Regions from separate parts of the Homo sapiens genome. Here region 2 is linked to region 1. The links come from fine-mapping of genetic effects on gene expression. A gene starts in region 1. The other region holds a variant in brackets. All regions are shown on one strand. Distances are from middle to middle. Region 1 holds the start of L1CAM (L1 cell adhesion molecule). Region 2 overlaps PDZD4 (PDZ domain containing 4).

Region 1 (8,325 bases):
TTTCCCTCAAGTTCCACTCTCAGACCCGCACTGGGATGGACGGGTTCAGAAGTCCTCTTTGGCCAAGTGCATGGAGCCCAGGACGCTGCCACCCTCCTGCCCCACCCAACCCCTGGCCCTCGCAGCTGCCCCTGCTGGGTGTAAGGGCCAGAGATGAGCAGGAGCTGCTGACTGACAGTGGCTGGGCACTCCCTCTGCAGCTTTCCAACCTGGGAAGAACACGGGGACCTGGGCTGGGGGCCACTGGACAAAGAAAAGCTTCTAGAAAGAACAGCGGCCAGACCCTCCCCAGCTCCTCCCTCTTTTTCCAGCCACAGCCTTCAGGAAGCCACAAAGACCCTGTTGATATCTGGGGAAGAGGCAAGCTGGGCGGGCTACCTCCCCCAGTGCTCGTCTGGCTGCTGCTCACCAGGCACCCCCCATACAGCCTTCCACTCAGACAAGGCCCCCATGGGGGGTCTGGGCCCAACCCCAAGGCGTAGAGTCCAGCAGAAGGGTGCTGAGTGGCTGCTGGACAGGGCACAACCTCAGGGCCCTCAAGGGTGAGGCAGGGGCAGCTGGGGGGGACAAGGAGAGGAGCAGAGCGGTGGAAGACAGACAAAAGGGTAAGCAGAGAGATGGAGCAGAGCCCTGACGGGAAGGGGGAAGAGGGAAGGGAGGGCCAGGCAGGCAGAGGCAGAGGGAGGAGACGGGGAGTGGTGCACCCCATCCCCGGCAGCAGCAGGCTTCTGCCTAGAAGGAGGAGGAAGGTGATGGCCCTGGGGGTGGGGCACAGGGAGACGTGGGAGGCTGCAGAGGAGAGAGCAGGGGGGCGGGGGAAGCAGGAGAAGGAGGTGTCCGAGATGGGCCAGATCAGAGCAAGTAAGACAGCGACTGCAGGGGCAGGGATGCTGCAGGCCCATTCCAGATGGCCCCACCCAGGGACCCAGCCCCAGCCCATTGCAGGGGCAGAGGACAGGGCAATGAGCACCCTGCTGGGGACCCTAGAAGGGCATCCAGACCCCCCGCCTCCCCCACTGTCTGAACCACGAGGGAGGGAGGCAGGGCCCCCACTCATGCCCCCACTCATGCCTGGCAGACCAGGGTCTTGGCTGGGATCCCCATCCTGGCAGACCTCCTCACAGGACCCCACCACTACCCCAGGTTCTCCCATGAACGTGCCCTCCTGGAGCCTGGGCCACTCTGCGAGGCCGCATCACCCTCACACCCAGAAAAGCACTCAGTGCAGCCATTTCGAGCTTTGAAAGGGAACTTGGTGATCAAGGTAGGGCACACAGGCCTGTCTCCTCGACCCTCACCTGCCAGTCCTGGCCAGGTGCATGCCAAGGAAGGCGCCAGCTGTAGTTCCAGTGGTGGAAAGGGCTCGGACCTGGGAGAGGCCGATTGGGGGCACAATCTGGGCACCCTGCTCACTGTAGGAGCCCTCAGGCCAGGCCCTTCCTCACTCTTTGCCTCCCTTTTCCCTTCAGATAATCATCAAGAAAAAAGAAAACAAGTGACACCCCACGAAGACAGGGACAATGCTGGTCCAGTTTGTCACTGGCTCTTCCATGGGCAGCCCAGAGCCCGGCCCAAAGGAGCACTGGCCATGAGCAGCTGCCCAGTACACGACTGCCCATCGCTGGGATCCTGAGCGCCTGGGTAGGGAAGCTCTTCACTGGCTGCAGGGCAGGGGACCCCGCCACCTTGAAGCGCTGATTGTCCTCCTGATGCTCAGCAGGGAGCTGGCAGCTGGGAACTTGGGGAGGAGCCTTTTAGGAGCGCGGTGTAGCAAACCAGGGAGGCTGGGGCGTGCTGAACGTGTTTCCCTCTTGGTGATCAGATCACTAGCGATTCTTAATTTCTTTTGTTCTTTTCTGTATATTTCAAGTGTCCTACAATAAGATGTATTACTTTCGGGATCATACACACACAAACATCAATAAATATGGAGAGAGACTCAGATGCAGCAGAGAGAAATGACCAGGAGCCAAGGAGGTGGGAAGGTCCCAGGCCCAACCCTGCCCCAAACTTCCCATGTGGCCAAGACAGCCGAGTCCTCAAAGGCTCTGGAGCCCTCAGGTGTGCACATGTGGGCACTGCATGGGAGCTGTGCCAGGGGAGAGGCCAGGCTGGGCCAAGTCCCACCACCTGCAGCAAGGAGCTGACGGGAGGGGAGAGGCCCTGGGGAGGCCCCCGCCCCAGAAAGATGATGCTGGGCAGCAGCCCCCAGGGGAAGAAGGGCGGACTGCACTGATTTACGTCAGGGCCACATGAGTCAGCAGAGATGGCACTGGGCTGCCCCGATGCCCCTGCCCTCAGGGTGGGGTTAACAGGGGCAGGGTATCTACCTGGGGGGTGCCAGGCCCCCACTCCTTCTGGAGAAGGGGGCAGATGGCTCTAGGCCTGCCTTCCTGAGAGGGACAGTGATAGGTGGGGGGTCCAGATACCCTGTCGGGGGCAATGGATTGTAGTGCGTGTTCTTTGCAATCCCTGCCAACCAAGAGGCCCCAAAAGTCTGACCTGGAATGGAGGGAATAGGAATCGCTGACCCCTCCCATAACCGCACAGAGATAGGAAGATGTGGCAGTGGGCAAAAGACCTGCAGTGCGCAGGGACCGCCTGAGCCAGTGAGGCCCACCTTCCCTCACCCCTACCTGATGGACCCTACCTGATGGACACCCATGCACGGGAGGCACAGCAGTGGGTGCCCGAACCGACCTCACCCACTCCAGCCCTGACTGGCCACAGAGCCTGTGGAAACGGGCTCCAGAGGCGCCCTACGCCTCCGGGGAGGAGCCCCTGGCTCTGCGGCAGGTTTTCGGGTGAGCCCGGAGGAGCCCAGGCTGGGATTTGGAAAGAAGAAGGAGGAGAACAAAGCCCCCCCAACCTTGGGGCGGAGGGGCAGGCAGCGCCCAGTCCCGTTCACTCCCCTCCCCCCATTGCAGGGGCGGCTTATCCCGATCTACCCCTCACCACGCTGTCAGCCGGGATTTTCAACCAAACTGAGCTCTCGGCTGGGGATGAGGGGCAGCCACGCCCAGGGCCACACCCCACGGCGGCCTGTGGGGGAGCGCTCGACCCGATCTGGCTTCCTTTCTCAGACACGCACACACGCACGGGGACCCGCCAACTTCAGCCCCCGCCTGCCCACACAGACCCTGCCTGACGCCCCCCGCCCTGTTCTCCCGCCCAGGCCAGCATCTGGGGCCCCGCAGGTTACCCCTCACCTGTCGGGCTCGGGCACCCGGCATCCCTCCCCCGCCCCGCTTACAGCCCGCGGTGCCCGGAGCCCGACGCCCGGCATGGGTGGGGCTCCGGCAGCAACGCCGGTTACCGCGGGCCGGACCGGGCCGGGACTCCCTGGTCCGTGCACCCCGGGCAGAGCGGTGTGGTGTCGCCGGGGGATCGCGGCCGCGGCCCGGGTCGCACGGGGAGGCCAGCCCGCCTTACCTGCGCTGCGGCCACCGCTCGGGCTGCCCGCCCAGCCTCCGCGCACGCCGGCCTCGGACCCGCCGCCCGAGCGCGTCTGCGATGCCGATGCTGCGGCAGCAGCGGCTGTGGCGGGGCGGGGCGGGCGTGCGCGCAGGGGCGGGGGAGGGGAGCGCCGGGGAGGAGAGGGAGGGAGGAGTGAGATCACCTCCCCGGCCGCCCGCCCCGCCCCGCCCCGCCCCGCCGCACCCTAGCCCCTGGTGCCAGCCGAGCGCGGCTTGGGCTGGGGGCCCCCGGGCAGCCCACTCCGGGAGCTCAGCGGGACCCCAGCCGACGGGTCCCGCCAGACCCCCTTCCCCGCAGACCGGGAGTCTCCGGCCGGAGAGTGTCCTCAGCCCCAGCGCAAGGGAGCCCGCTGTGAAAGCTCGGAGCGGGAATCGCGGGGCGAGAGTGCTCCCAGAGGCCTGGGGCCGGGCGGTGGAGAGAGGAGTCCGGCAAGGAAGGGGATGCTCCCTTAGCCTCGGCCTGGCCCTCGACGGCGCCGGCCAGCGATGGGCACCTGCACGCAACGCCCCCCCAACACACACACACAGGGCAGGACTCCCGGGACCTCTCCCGAATGCCCCCCGATCCTGAGGGCCCAGTCAGGGTCCTGTTGGGAGGGGTGCGGGGGCTTCGTCCTCAGCGTGTTGGGGAGGCGCCGCGGAGCACCGGCTCCTGCGCACCCCAGAGCCCAGGTGGGCGGCAGGGTAGGAGGCGAGCCCAGGGGAGACAGGGTCTGGGAGAGGGTATCCCTCGAACTGCCACCCCCAACTCCCAGATTTTCCTCCAGCTCTCTGGTGTCTTATTTCTTTGTCCTCGGGATTGGCCCCATTCGACCTTTCCCGCCGACTCCACTCTCTCCCACTCTCCCCCGCAGCCCTGCACAGGATCGAGAAGGAAGGAGCTCCTCCCCAGTGCCCCCTCCTAGGCTCAAGGCCATGACCTCACAGGCGAGGAAGCAAAATGGAGGGGGTAAGAATTCCGGAGCCGGCGAGCTGGCTGCAGCCTCAGGGCTAGGAAGGCCTAGGGCCCCGATGGCAGATTGCAGATCTGGCGGCCACGGTATTTTTATGGGCATGCCTGTTGCCCAGTGAAGCATTCCAGGGGCCCTCGACTCAGTCTCACAAGACTCCCCAAGTGGTGTGGGGCCCTGGAGGGCCCACATGGGAGCAGCCCTGGCATCCTGGCTTGGATGCCCCACCCCCATAGTGCCAGCTTCAGTTCCCCTGGAATGGGAAGCTTGGGGTGGACCCATCTGTGCTCAGAGAGGGTCTGGATGCCATGTTTGCCCAGCCTTTAGGAGGAGAATGGACAAGACTAGGCACCTGAGTGAAGACGGACGGCTAGGGAGACTGCTTCCAGAGTGGGGGCACTTGCAGGGCATCTTCAGGTGACAGCAGAGGAAACTGAGCCCGCCTGGGTCACGAGGCCAGCAGGCTCATGAGCTGGGCCAAGAGGGCGTACTTTCCATGAGGCACTGAGCTGTGGTCAGCTTCCTGCCTTTGCTGATCTGAACTCTGATAGGCCTCTCTCCTTTCCAGTTGCTGCCTCCACTCACTCCCTACGTTCCCAGCCTTTCCTCCAAGCCCCAACTTCTGCAAATCCTTTACCTAATCTAGGGTTTGATGCCCATCAGGATGGTGAAGTAAGCAGGGAATAGAGCCCGTTTATACGCACCTGCTAATGTGTAGTGATGGGTCCATTTATGGTAACAAAAAATTCATTACTAGGATTACACGACATCACATTTCCTGAGCACAGCCATGGACCTGCCATCGTTACATTTCCTGCACATTTAAATTGCACACCAACCTGGGGAGGTCTGTTGAAGCATTCGCCCCACGTTACAGATGAGAAAACCAAAGCCCACAGAGCTCAAGGCTGGGTCCAGCAAGCACAGTTAGGAAGGTCTCTTTCTCTCCACTGGCTCATTGCATCCACACACACACCCCAGATGATGGTGCTGTTATTATCCTCACTCTCCCAGTGAGGTACCCAAGGTCCAGAGAGGGGCAGTCATGCAACCAGGAAGAAATTGGCACTATCAGTGCCCCCATTTCACAGATGAGGAAACCAAGGTTCAGAGGGGTCAAATGACCCACCCAAGATAGCCCAGAAGGTAAATGGCAGAACTCGGACTTGAATTCCCTTCTGCTTGACCACGATGCCCATTCTCACTTCCATGTAATGAAGTGGAGGAGCCAATGGGAGCAAGAGCAAGAGTGACAGAAGACCAAGGGCAGAGCAAGTCCCAGGAGAAGCAGGAGGGACTGGCCCTGAACAAGAGGCAAGCCACCCCCCCACTGCCATGTGCTTGCTGTTGGAGGTTAGGGGGACACCAAGTAGACAGATGACTGTCTCTTTCCCTTCAACGTCAAGTGCTTCTCACAGCCCTGCTCCCTGTGACCCAGCCCTCATAGACACAGTGGACTGGACAAGGGAAGCCCCAGACTCTGACCCTGTGATGAGCATGCAGAAGACGCAGAAGCCACAGACGACAGTGGGGCAGTAAGGAAGTGCCAGCAGGCAGGCGGGGTGGGCTCAGCCAGACGTGTCTTTCTCTGTTCTCCTTTCAATCTTTCTGTGTCTTCATATCTCAGGTGTAGCGCTTGGAAACAGCACATAGTTGGGTTTTGGTTTGGTTTGATTCTGTCTAACAATTCTTGTCTTTTTAAAAATCAGCTTTGAGACCTGCCTGGGCAACACAGCGAGACCACGTCTCTACAAAAAAAATTTTAAAATTAGGCATGGTGGTGCATGTCTGTAGTCCCAACTACTCAGGAGGCTGAGGTGGGAGGATCGCTGGAGCCCAAGAGGTTGAGGCTACAGTGAGCCATGATCACACCACTACACTCCAGCCTGGGTGACAGAGTGAGACCCTGTCTCAAAAAAAAAAAAAAAAAAATCAACTTTATTGGAGTATAATTTACATACAGTAAAATTCATCCTTTTGAGGTTTACAGTTCAAGGAGTTTTGGTGAATGTTGTGTGCAGCCAACCACTCCCACCACCCCCTGCCCTTGGCCACCACTGATCTGATTTCTGTCTTTTCTAAATTTTATTATAAATGGAATCATACCGTATATATTCTTTTGTCTGGCTTCTTTCACACTCACGCAGCATACTTTTTGAGCTTCATCCATGTTGGTGTGTGTGTTTGTGTGTGTGTGTGAGAGAGAGAGAGAGAGAGCATGCGGGCGAGAGAGAGCAGTATATTTCCTTTTGATTGCCGAGTAGTATTCCATTGTTTGGTTGGATCAGGGTTTGTTCAGCCATTCACTCACTGAAGGACACTTGGGTAGTTTCCAGCTTTGTGTGATTATGATGGAGCAGCTCTAAACATTTATATGCAAGCTTGTGTAAATGTGTGTCTTCATTTCTCTAAGGTAACCGCTTAGGAGTGGATTGTTCAGTCAAGTGGTAGATTGATGTTGAACCTGCCTTTGTCTTTGAACTGTGCAGGTCAGCTGGTCACACGGTGATGACTGCTGCTATCTCTGGATGTAGTCACGCCAGGTGAGTATTTGCTTTCTATTTGTCCTGCTTTCCCCATCTCTCTCCCCCACCTCCACTTTATTATTTTTTATTAGTGTTGTTATTACTTTGAGACAGGGTCTCACTCTGTTCCCTAGGCTGGAGTGCAGTGGTGTGATCATGGCTCACTGCAACCTCGACCTCCTGGGCTCAAGTGATCCTCCCACCACAGCCTCCCAAGTACTGGGACAACAGATGTGCCACCACCACACTTGATTAATTTTTTTTTCTTTTTTGGTAGAGGTGAGGTCTCACTATGTTGTCCAGACTGGTCTTGAACTCCTGGGCTCAAGTGGTGATCCACTGCCTTGGCCTCACAAAGTGCTAGGATTACAGGAGTGAGTCACTGCACCTGGCCTCACCCCCACATTGTATCAGTGAAGGTGTGTCTGGAGTTGGTTCCTTCCAGTGGGTTCTTGGTCTCGCTGACTTCAAGAATGAAGCCGCGGACCTTCGCGGTGAGTGTTACAGCTCTTAAAGGTGGCACAGACCCAAAGTGTGAGCAGCAGCAAGATGTATTGTGAAGAGTGAAAGAACAAAGCTTCCACAGCATGGAAGAGGACCCAAGCAGGTTGCCGTTGCTTGTGGGGGGCGGGGGGGGGCCAGCTTTTATTCCCTTATTTGTCCCCTCCCATGTCCTGCTGATTAGTCCATTTTACAGAGTGCTGATTGGTCCATTTTACAGAGTGCTGATTGGTCCATTTACAATCCTCTAGCTAGACACAGAAAACTGGTGCGTTTTTACAGACTGCTGATTGGTGCATTTACAATCCTTTAGCTAGACACAGAGCGCTGATTGGTGTGTTTACAATCCTCTAGCTAGACAGAAAAGTTCTCCAAGTCCCCACATCACCCAGGAAGTCTAGCTGGCTTCACCTCTCAAAGGTTCAGGGTAGGAAGCAGAAATTCCTCCCGTGATCATGAACAGAAAGGGATTCTGTAGAAGGGATTAGATGCTTACCTGACCATTGGATGGGCCAAAGGAGTGGACTCTGGGCTAGGTGTTGATAACACCAGTGCAGACCTGGCTCCTCAAGGGAGCTGCTACCTCTGCCACCATCCACAAGATGGGGGATTGGGAGGCGGCCAGTGTAACCTTTGAGTTCAAAAAGACACCACCAAAGTCATGACCTGAGGATCAGCAAGCTGGGACCAGGAAGCCATTGCTGCCACAAGTGCCCCTCAACAACCAAGAAGTGAAGGTTAGACCCCAGAAATTCTTTGATGTCCAGCAGAAACGCAGCCCCACACAGCAGAAGTGTGGCTTCCCTTCCTTCAGTCATCCAAACTTCATGTGAGCACACCCAATTTGGCAATTGGCAAATTTGCCAATTTGCC
Region 2 (8,325 bases), 64 kb before region 1:
AGGTTGCAGTGAGCCCAGATCACACCACTGTACTCCAGCCTGGGCAACAGAGCAAGACTCCGTCTCAAACAAAAAAAGAATCATGAGATGAAGCTGGGCGTGGTGTCTCGCTCCTGTAGCCCCAAGTGGTGGAGGAGGTAGGGGGCAGGCGGTAGGGCTGAGGCAAGAGGATCACCTGAGCATTGGGAGGTCAAGGCTGCAGTGAGCCGTGATTGTGCCACTCCACTCCAGCCTGAGCAACGGACTGAGACCCTGTCTCAAAAATAATAAAAATTTAAAAATAAATAAATAAAAATTTAAAAAGCAAAAGCATGAGATGGAGGAGCTCACCTAGGGAGTGAATGTAGTCAAGAACAGGAGAGGCCCAAGGAGAGTCCTGGGGCACCCTGACACTGAGCCGGTTGGGGAGAGAGACTAGAAAGTCCCGGGAGGGAAGCCGAGGAGCTGCTCAATGCACTGGGTCGGAGCCCGGGAGGGGAGGGCGAAGGTGGGGCCTCTGGATTTGCTAAAAGGTGGGAGGGGGCCGGGTGGGGAAGCTCGACCTGCATCGACACAGCCTTCCGGAGCTTTTTGCAGAGAAGGAGCAGGTTGGGTTTTCAGGAACATCAGAGGGGCGGCTGAATACCGATGGAAGAGCAATTCGCAAGGCCAGGGAAAGTGCTGGCACCGCTTTCCCCGCATGAGGGGGACATGCGGGCAAGGGAGGGGGGACACAGGGACAGGGGAGGGGGCAACACCGGGCAGGCGAGGCAGGCATGACGCGAAGTCGGCCCCACGGGCAGTCGCTGTGGGGCGGCGATCTCCCGCTGGGCAAGGGACTGGCGGGCCTTAGGGGACGCGGGAAGCGGGGCGCCCTAGGCGGAGAGGGCGGAGCCCCAGGCGCGCTCGCCCCGCCCCCTGAGCCCGGAGCCGCAGACAAAGAGCGCGCCGCGACGGCGGCGGGGTGGCTGCGGCTGCGGGAGCAGGGCGGACCACACTCGTCCCGGCGCCGCCACGCTGGTGGCTGTATTGGCAGGACTCCTGCCCGCCCGCCCCGCCAACCCCGTCGGAGGCTGAGCTCTGTTTCCAGGCTCTGCCCCAGGCACCCTCCTGCACCCAGCGGTGGCAGGCGCACAGCCGGGTGGGGCGCGACGCCCTCTTGCTGATCAGGAATCTCTGGGAAGCCGAGAAGAGAGGCCGGAGAGGCTAAGAAAACAGTTGTGGCCTGGGAGACTCGCAATCCCAAGTGCTTGTCACACGGCGCCTGCGACCCCTTTCACTCTCACTGGCAACGCGCGGGATGGGAGGTGAAGCCACATCACTTCCAGGGGCCCCCGTGGCTGCCACGGAGGTGGGGGGGCTGCCACCTTCGGACTCCCCTTACCCCACTGCTGTAGAGTAGGAAACAAGCTGGGGAAGGACAGAGACAGGAAGTTATCCTCTGCCCGGGGCCGAGCTCTGACCTGCCTGCTGGCTCTCAGCTCTGCCGTCTGGAGTATCCAGGACACCTTGGAAGCAGTTGTGACTGTAGCTTCCAGGCCAAGTCAGGCATCGGGGGATCTCCCAACGAGTAGAGCATCAGAGGAGAAAGGAGAAGCCGCAGGCTCACTACATTCACCCACTCAGTGACCCAGCAAAGTCCCCATTCATGTTTCCCCAGCTCGGGATTTTGAAAATTGTCCGCCCACAAGCATGTGGGAACATCTGCAGATTCCCCACACCTGCTCTCGGGGTTTCTACACACACATGTGCAGAAGCATTTGAAAGCAAGATGCCATCAGTCCCATTCTCCGTGGAACCACAACACCCTTAGCACGGAATTCCGCACTCATACAATGGGCCAGCCTCACATCTCCCCAGCTGTCCCGCTAACACCCTTATAGCTTTTTTTAAAAATCTAGGATTTGAGGCTGGGCACAATGGCTCATGCCTGTAATCCCAGCACTTTGGGAGGCTGAGGCGGGCAGATCACAAGGTCAGGAGTTCGAGACCAGCATGGCCAATATGGTGAAACCCCGTCTCTACTAAAAATACAAAAATTAGCCGGGCGTGGTGGCTTGCACCTGTAGTTCCAGCTACTAGGGAGGCTGAGGCAGGAGAATCACTTGAACCCGGGTGGCGGAGGAGGTTGCAGTGAGCCGAGATCGTGCCACTGCACTCCAGCCTGGGCGACAGAGCAAGACTCCATCTCAAAAAAAAAAAAAAAAAAAAAAAAAGCGAGGCGTGGTGGTGCAGCCTATGGTCCCAGCTACTTGGGAGGCTGAGGCAGGAGAATTGATTGAACCCAGGAAGCAGAGGTTGAAGTGAGCTGAGATCACACCATCACACTCCAGCCTGGGTGACACAGAGAGACTCCATCTCAAAAACAAAACAAACAAACAAAAAATCTAGGATTCAATCAAGAAGCACACATATTACATTCGGTTGTTAGGTCTCTAGTTATTATGTCTCCTCTCTAATCTAGAAAAAAATATATATATTTTTTACTTTAATGGGAATGACTTCTTGGAAGAGACCAGTCCTTATAGAATGCGCCAGAGTCTGAATTTGCCTGATTCATTCCCGCGGTGAGATTCAGGCTGAGCGTTTTGACAAGAGCACCTTGCAGGAGATGCTGTATGTCTCCTCCCCAGCCCTGCATCTGGCGGCTGGCAGGGTCAGGCTGCCCCACTGTTGGGGAGGCTGTTTGATCACATGGTCCAGGTGGCAGCTGCCAGATCTCTCCTCTGTAAAGACGCAGTTTCCCTTCCTGATTCACAGGTAATTTGGGGTAATATTTGGAGACTTTGTGAATATTCTGTCCCCAACGACCTTACATCTAATGGTTTTGGCATCCAGTGATGATTTTTGCCTGAATTAATTACTGCATTGGTGGCTGCAAAATGTCTCCACCAACATGTTAGAATTCTAGCAGGGACAAAGAGGTGACAGGCCCGGCAAGTAGCATGGCTGCCCACGCCCCCAACTGTGGCCTCCTGGGCAAGCCACACCACCCGCTTCCATAACTCTGTGCCCACCCTTTCTGCCTGGGGGCAGGAGAGACAGAAACATGGGAGGGCTTCATCTCAAAGGCCTTTGAGCAGTTAGTCGGGGGAGGGGTGTCTGGGCGTCCATGAGAGACATGTATACCGGTAGGGGTGCCGGTGACAGGGAAGGGGGTCAGTTAGCTGCACATGGCAGGGAAGAACAAGTTATGTCCTGTAAAGCCCTCACGTAGGCAACGACTCCTGGATGTTCTGATTTACCCTCTATGTGTGTTTTTTTACCCTCTATTTGTAAACAATTTTTACCCTCTATTTGTAAAAAAAAAAAACAAAACAAACAAACAAAAAAAACAACACCTCACTTCACCACCCATGTTAATGTGGTTTGGGGCTACCATAGATCTACTCCCGGTCCCTACCCAAGGCCCTGGCTACTCACAGCCAGTGGGATCCACATCACCTGGGAGCTTGTGAGAAGTGCAGAATCCCAGGCCCCATGCTAGTGGCTCAGTCAGAAAGTGCACCTTAACAAGGACTTCGGGTGGAGGGTGGCGCTGTACTGACTCAGAGCGCGCCCTGGAGGAACCAGGGCAGACCTCAACGAAGGCCTTCTGCATGAGGGCATCTTTCTTTCCCCTCACTTCTCCTTCCCTCCCCGAAGCCCAGGGTCTGCTGAAGTCTCATCAATCCACCTGGCCCCCACCTTTCCGGGAGAGCGGCGGCCTCTCAGACACCTCCATAGTCCTGGCTCAGAAGCAGAAAGGAGGCCGGGCGCGGTGGCTCACGCCTGTAATCCCAGCATTTTGGGAGGCCGAGGCAGGCGGATCACTAGAGGTCAGGAGTTTGAGACCAGACTGGCCAACATGATGAAACCCTGTCTTTACTAAAAATACAAAAATTAGCCAGGCGTGGTGGCAGGTGCCTGTAATCCCAGCTACTCGGGAGGCTGAGGCAGAATTGCTTGAACCCAGGAGGCGGAGGCTGCAATGAGCCGAGATCACAACACTGCACTCTAGCCTGGGTGACAGAGCAAGACTCTGTCTCAAAAAAAAAAAAAAAAAAAACACACAGGAAAAGAGGGGTGTCCCACACCTTGCACAGGAAAAGCCAACCACTTCCTGAAGCCATTCTCAAGATCAACCTTCGGGTACATATTCACAGCTTTCCAGGCACGTGGCCCAGCAACTAAACCCATCCTCCCACCCACCTCAGGCTAACCTGACTGGCTAAGGGCACAGTTCACATCTAGCAACAATCAAAGCAATATTCCCTCTGCAGCGTTTTACAATCAAAGCAATATTCCCTCTGCAGCGTTTTTCATTCTCAATGCTCCAAGCAGCCATGAGGACAGGCAGAATGCACTGAAAGGGAGGACATCTTGTCCAGCCCCAGGCTGCTCAGCCTCGCCTCCTCCGGCCCAACTCCTGTGCAAAATGACCACATATGCCTCCGCTTTGTTCCCTGTCCATCTGTTTTTTCTTTCTCTCTCTCTCTCTCTCTCCCTCCCTCCCTCTCTCTCTCTCTCTTTCTCTCTGTCTTTCTTTCTTTTTTTTCCAGACACAGTCTGGCTCCATTGCCCAGGCTAGAGTGCAGTGGTACAATCACGGCTCACAGAAGCCTC[C/T]AACTCCTGGGTTCAAGCAATCCTCCCACTCAGCCTCCCCAGAAGCTGGGACTAGAGGCGCATGCCACTACGCCTGAGCAATTTTTTATTTTTGTAGAGACAAGGTCTCAATATGTTGCCCAGGCTGTCCTAACTAATATTGTACTACATCACACTTCTTCAAAACTTGGAGGTCCCTTTCCTGAGAGAAATTCTCAGAATAATATTGGACATTCTTCTGTCACTGGGCATTAACTGTGACATACCCAGATGTAAGGCCTTCTCCATATAATTTCCTTTTTCATTATTTTTTATTTAATTAATTTATTTATTTGAGACAGGGTCTCGTTCTGTCACCTAGGCTGGAGTGCAGTGGCTTGATCTTGGCTCATGCAACCTCCACCTGCTGAGTTCAAGCAGTTCTCCTGCCTCAGCCTCCCGAGTAGCTGGGACTACAGGTGCATGATGCCCAGCTAATATATATATATATATTTTTTTTTGAGATGGAGTTTCGAGCCCAAGCTGGAGTGCAATGGCGTGATCTCAGCTCACCACAACCTCCACCTCCCGGGTTCAAGCAATTCTCCTGCCTCAGCCTCCCGCGTACCTGGGATTACAGGCATGTGTCACCATGCCCGGCTAATTTTGTATTTTTAGTAGAGATGGGGTTTCTCTATGTTGGTCAGGCTGGTCTCGAACTCCTGACCTGAGGTGATCCGCCCACCTCAGCCTCCCAAAGTGCTGGGATTACAGGCGTGAGCCACCACGCCTGGTCAATTTTTTGTATTTTTAGTATAGATGGGGTTTCACCATGCTGGCCAGGCTGGTCTCGAACTCCTGACCTCATGATCCACCCGCCTCGGCCTCCCAAAGTGCTGGGATTACAGGCGTGAGCCACCGCACCCAGCCAATTTCCACTTCTTAATGACCAACTGAATGGCCCGAGGGCAGCAACTCCCTCCTCCACCCAGTGAGATCCCGGGGGACACACCATCTGTTTTCCTTGTCACAATGGCCCTCGGACGCAAGCACTCTTCACTGCCATTTCACAGTTGAGGAAACTGAGTCACTGAGCCAGTGGGCCATGCAGCGACTTGCCCCTGGCCACACAGCTGTCAGTTGGTGGCTGCCTCCATTCCTATCTCCACACTGCACTGCCTTCTCTGGCAGGGCCCCTGAAGTAGAAGGAAGGAAAGGACACCTTTCTCCCCAGGATGCGTGCATGTGGCCATGGAGTTCCTGTTCTAAAGCTTTGGTGAGGTCTGTTGCTGGGTGGTAACCTGCACATCTTCAGTGTGCAAAGGGCAGGTGTTCATATGTCATACATGAACCTGGGGAACCATCACCACCGTCAGGACAGTGGCCATTTCTATCTTCCCCAAAAGTGTCCTCATGCCCCTCTGCCCATCCCTGCAACCACGAATCTGCTCTCTGGCACTATCGAATTTCATTTCAGCAGACTGGACAGTCCTCAGGAACCCCGAGATGAGAGGGGAAAGGGCATTCTACAATCTTGGGACAATGACACAAAACAGGATGACCTGGTCCAGAAGATGGCAGTCAGAATTCAGTGTCCAGCCCTCTGTTCTTCCACTCCACAAGGACTTTCTCAGAGCCTGCTTCTTCCCCAGTCAGCTTCTGCGGCAGAACCACTGAGTTGACTGAGAGTCCAGCTTTCCCCTGGAAGGGTGGAGGCCAGCGTGGATGTGCTGGCAGCATCTGGTGCTGGTGAGGCGGGGAGGCAGAGTGCCCATGCCAGACCCAAATCCCTGCTCACAGGAAGCCCCCATGCAAGCAGGAGGGAGCCAGAGAAGCCACCTGGCTTGGTGGGTGGGAGAGCAGTTTGGAGGAAGACGTCGCTGAAGAGGGGACACTGGCTGCCAGCCACGCTCCCGCACTCAAGCAGTACTTTCTCTCCCCCGCAGTTGCCTACATGTTGGCGATGGTCTCCCCCTTACAAAAAGGGGAGCCTGGGGCCAGGCGTGGTGGCTCACTCCTGTAATCCCAGCACTTTGGGAGGCCGGTGTGGGTGGATCACCTGAGGTCGGGAGTTCAAGACCAGCCTGACCAACATGGAGAAACCCCATCTCTACTAAAAATACAAAATTAGCCAGGCATGGTGGCGCATGCCTGTAATCCCAGCTACTCGGGAGGCTGAGGCAGGAGAATCGCTTGAACCCTGGAGGCGGAGGTTTTGGTGAGCCCAGATCGTACCATTGCACTCCAGCCTGGGCAACAAGAGCGAAACTCTGTCTCAAACAACAACAACAACAACAACAAAAGGGGAGTCTGGGGGAGGGGCAAGGCCCTGTCTGCAGTGTCTCCCTGCTGAATGCCACGCACCCAGGATGGCTGCCAGCACCATGGGGGCTCACATGCAGGTGCTTTAGGCAAGAATGCCTGGGAGATCACCAGAAGGGCTGGCCAGCTGTCCTTTGGCCTCCCTCGATGTGGACAGAGGGGAGATGACAGGCGGTCCTGACCCACTCCCCCTGTAAAGCCTGAGTAGGATGGGCGGGAGACCAGTCCTAAGTACCAGGGGTTTATCCCCTGACCATCTCCGGCGTGCTCGGATGCTAGCAAGCACATCATGGTGTCAGAGAGGGGGTGCCAAGGCCAAGACAAGTTCAGCAGAGTGTGGACCACGATGAGATATATGACAAGGGGGCCTGGTGGCAGTGGAGGGACATGGGCTGCAGAAAAGGCTCCGGAGCTGGGGACATGCTGTTTCCTGCCTTCCATTCTGGGCAACCAGCCTGCTTCCTTTTCCTAACTCAACACGCAGTAATCCTCCATTTTCAGGGGAGGTCCCAGATTTTCCAAACTAGGAGGACATGATTGGAATATAGGAATGGGGCTGAGGTTCCGACATGACACACGAAAGTGCCTGTGACAACCCACATCCGTGGAATAAAGGAACCATGTGGTCATCTCACTAGCCACAGAAGCAGCACTGCACAATCCAATGCCTCTCATGATAAAAACACACTAGGAATAGAATGGGAACTTCCTTACCCTGATAAAGGACAGCTATGAAAAAGCCACAGCTAACTTTATACCCCCTAGTGAAAGACTGGAAGCTTCTTTACCTTTAAGATGAGGAACAAGGGAAAGACATTCACAGGCACTTCTATTCAACATTGTACTAGAGACTCCAGCCAGAGCAAATTAACAAGAAAAAGAAATCGAAGGGCCAGGAACGGTGGTTTACACCGGTAATCCCAGCACTTTGGGAGGCCGAGGCGGGCAGGATTGCTTGAGGCCAGGAGTTCAAGACTAGCCTGGCCAACATGGCAAAAGCTCGTCTCTGCTAAAAATACAAAAATTAGCTGGGTGTGGTAGTGTGTGCCTGTAATCCTAGCTACATGGGAAGCTGAGGCAGGAGAATCACTTGAACCCGGGAGGCGGAGGCTGCAGTGAGCCGAGATTGCACCACTGCACTCCAGTCTGGGTGACAAAGTGAGACTGTGTCTCAAAAAAAAAAAAAAAAAGAAAGAAAGAAAAGAAAAGAAATCAAAGCCATCCAGATTGGAAAGGAAGAAGAAAAACGATTTCTATTTGCCAATGACATGATCCTAATATGTAGATAATCCTGAGGAATCTACTAAACAAATTATACTTAATAAACAATTTTAGTAAGGTCGCAAGATATAGGATCAATGTATAAAAATCAATTTTTTTTTTGAGACAGAGTCCTGCCCTGTCACCCAGGCTGGAGTGCAGCGGTGCAATCTCAGCTCACTGCAACCTCTGCCTCTGGGG

The links.
Region 2: its variant is fine-mapped to the expression of L1CAM in T cells (TOPMed, PIP 0.98).

Annotation. Positions count from the first base shown.
Region 1 is chrX:153,882,633-153,890,957 of GRCh38, forward strand. It overlaps L1CAM (L1 cell adhesion molecule), which reads right to left and starts at 3,541. Exons shown (of 29, transcript NM_001278116.2): 1 at 3,433-3,541. It overlaps L1CAM-AS1 (L1CAM antisense RNA 1), which reads left to right. Exons shown (of 7, transcript NR_130768.1): 2 at 1,079-1,264; 3 at 1,316-1,641; 4 at 2,731-2,804; 5 at 3,176-3,345; 6 at 4,331-4,425; 7 at 5,865-6,358.
Region 2 is chrX:153,818,180-153,826,504 of GRCh38, forward strand. All of the region lies in intron 1 of PDZD4 (PDZ domain containing 4), which reads right to left. Among named protein-coding and RNA genes, the nearest start is that of PDZD4, 8.2 kb to the right of the region's middle. RefSeq lists a silencer at 866-1,025. The variant C/T (reference allele first, on the strand shown) is at 4,585.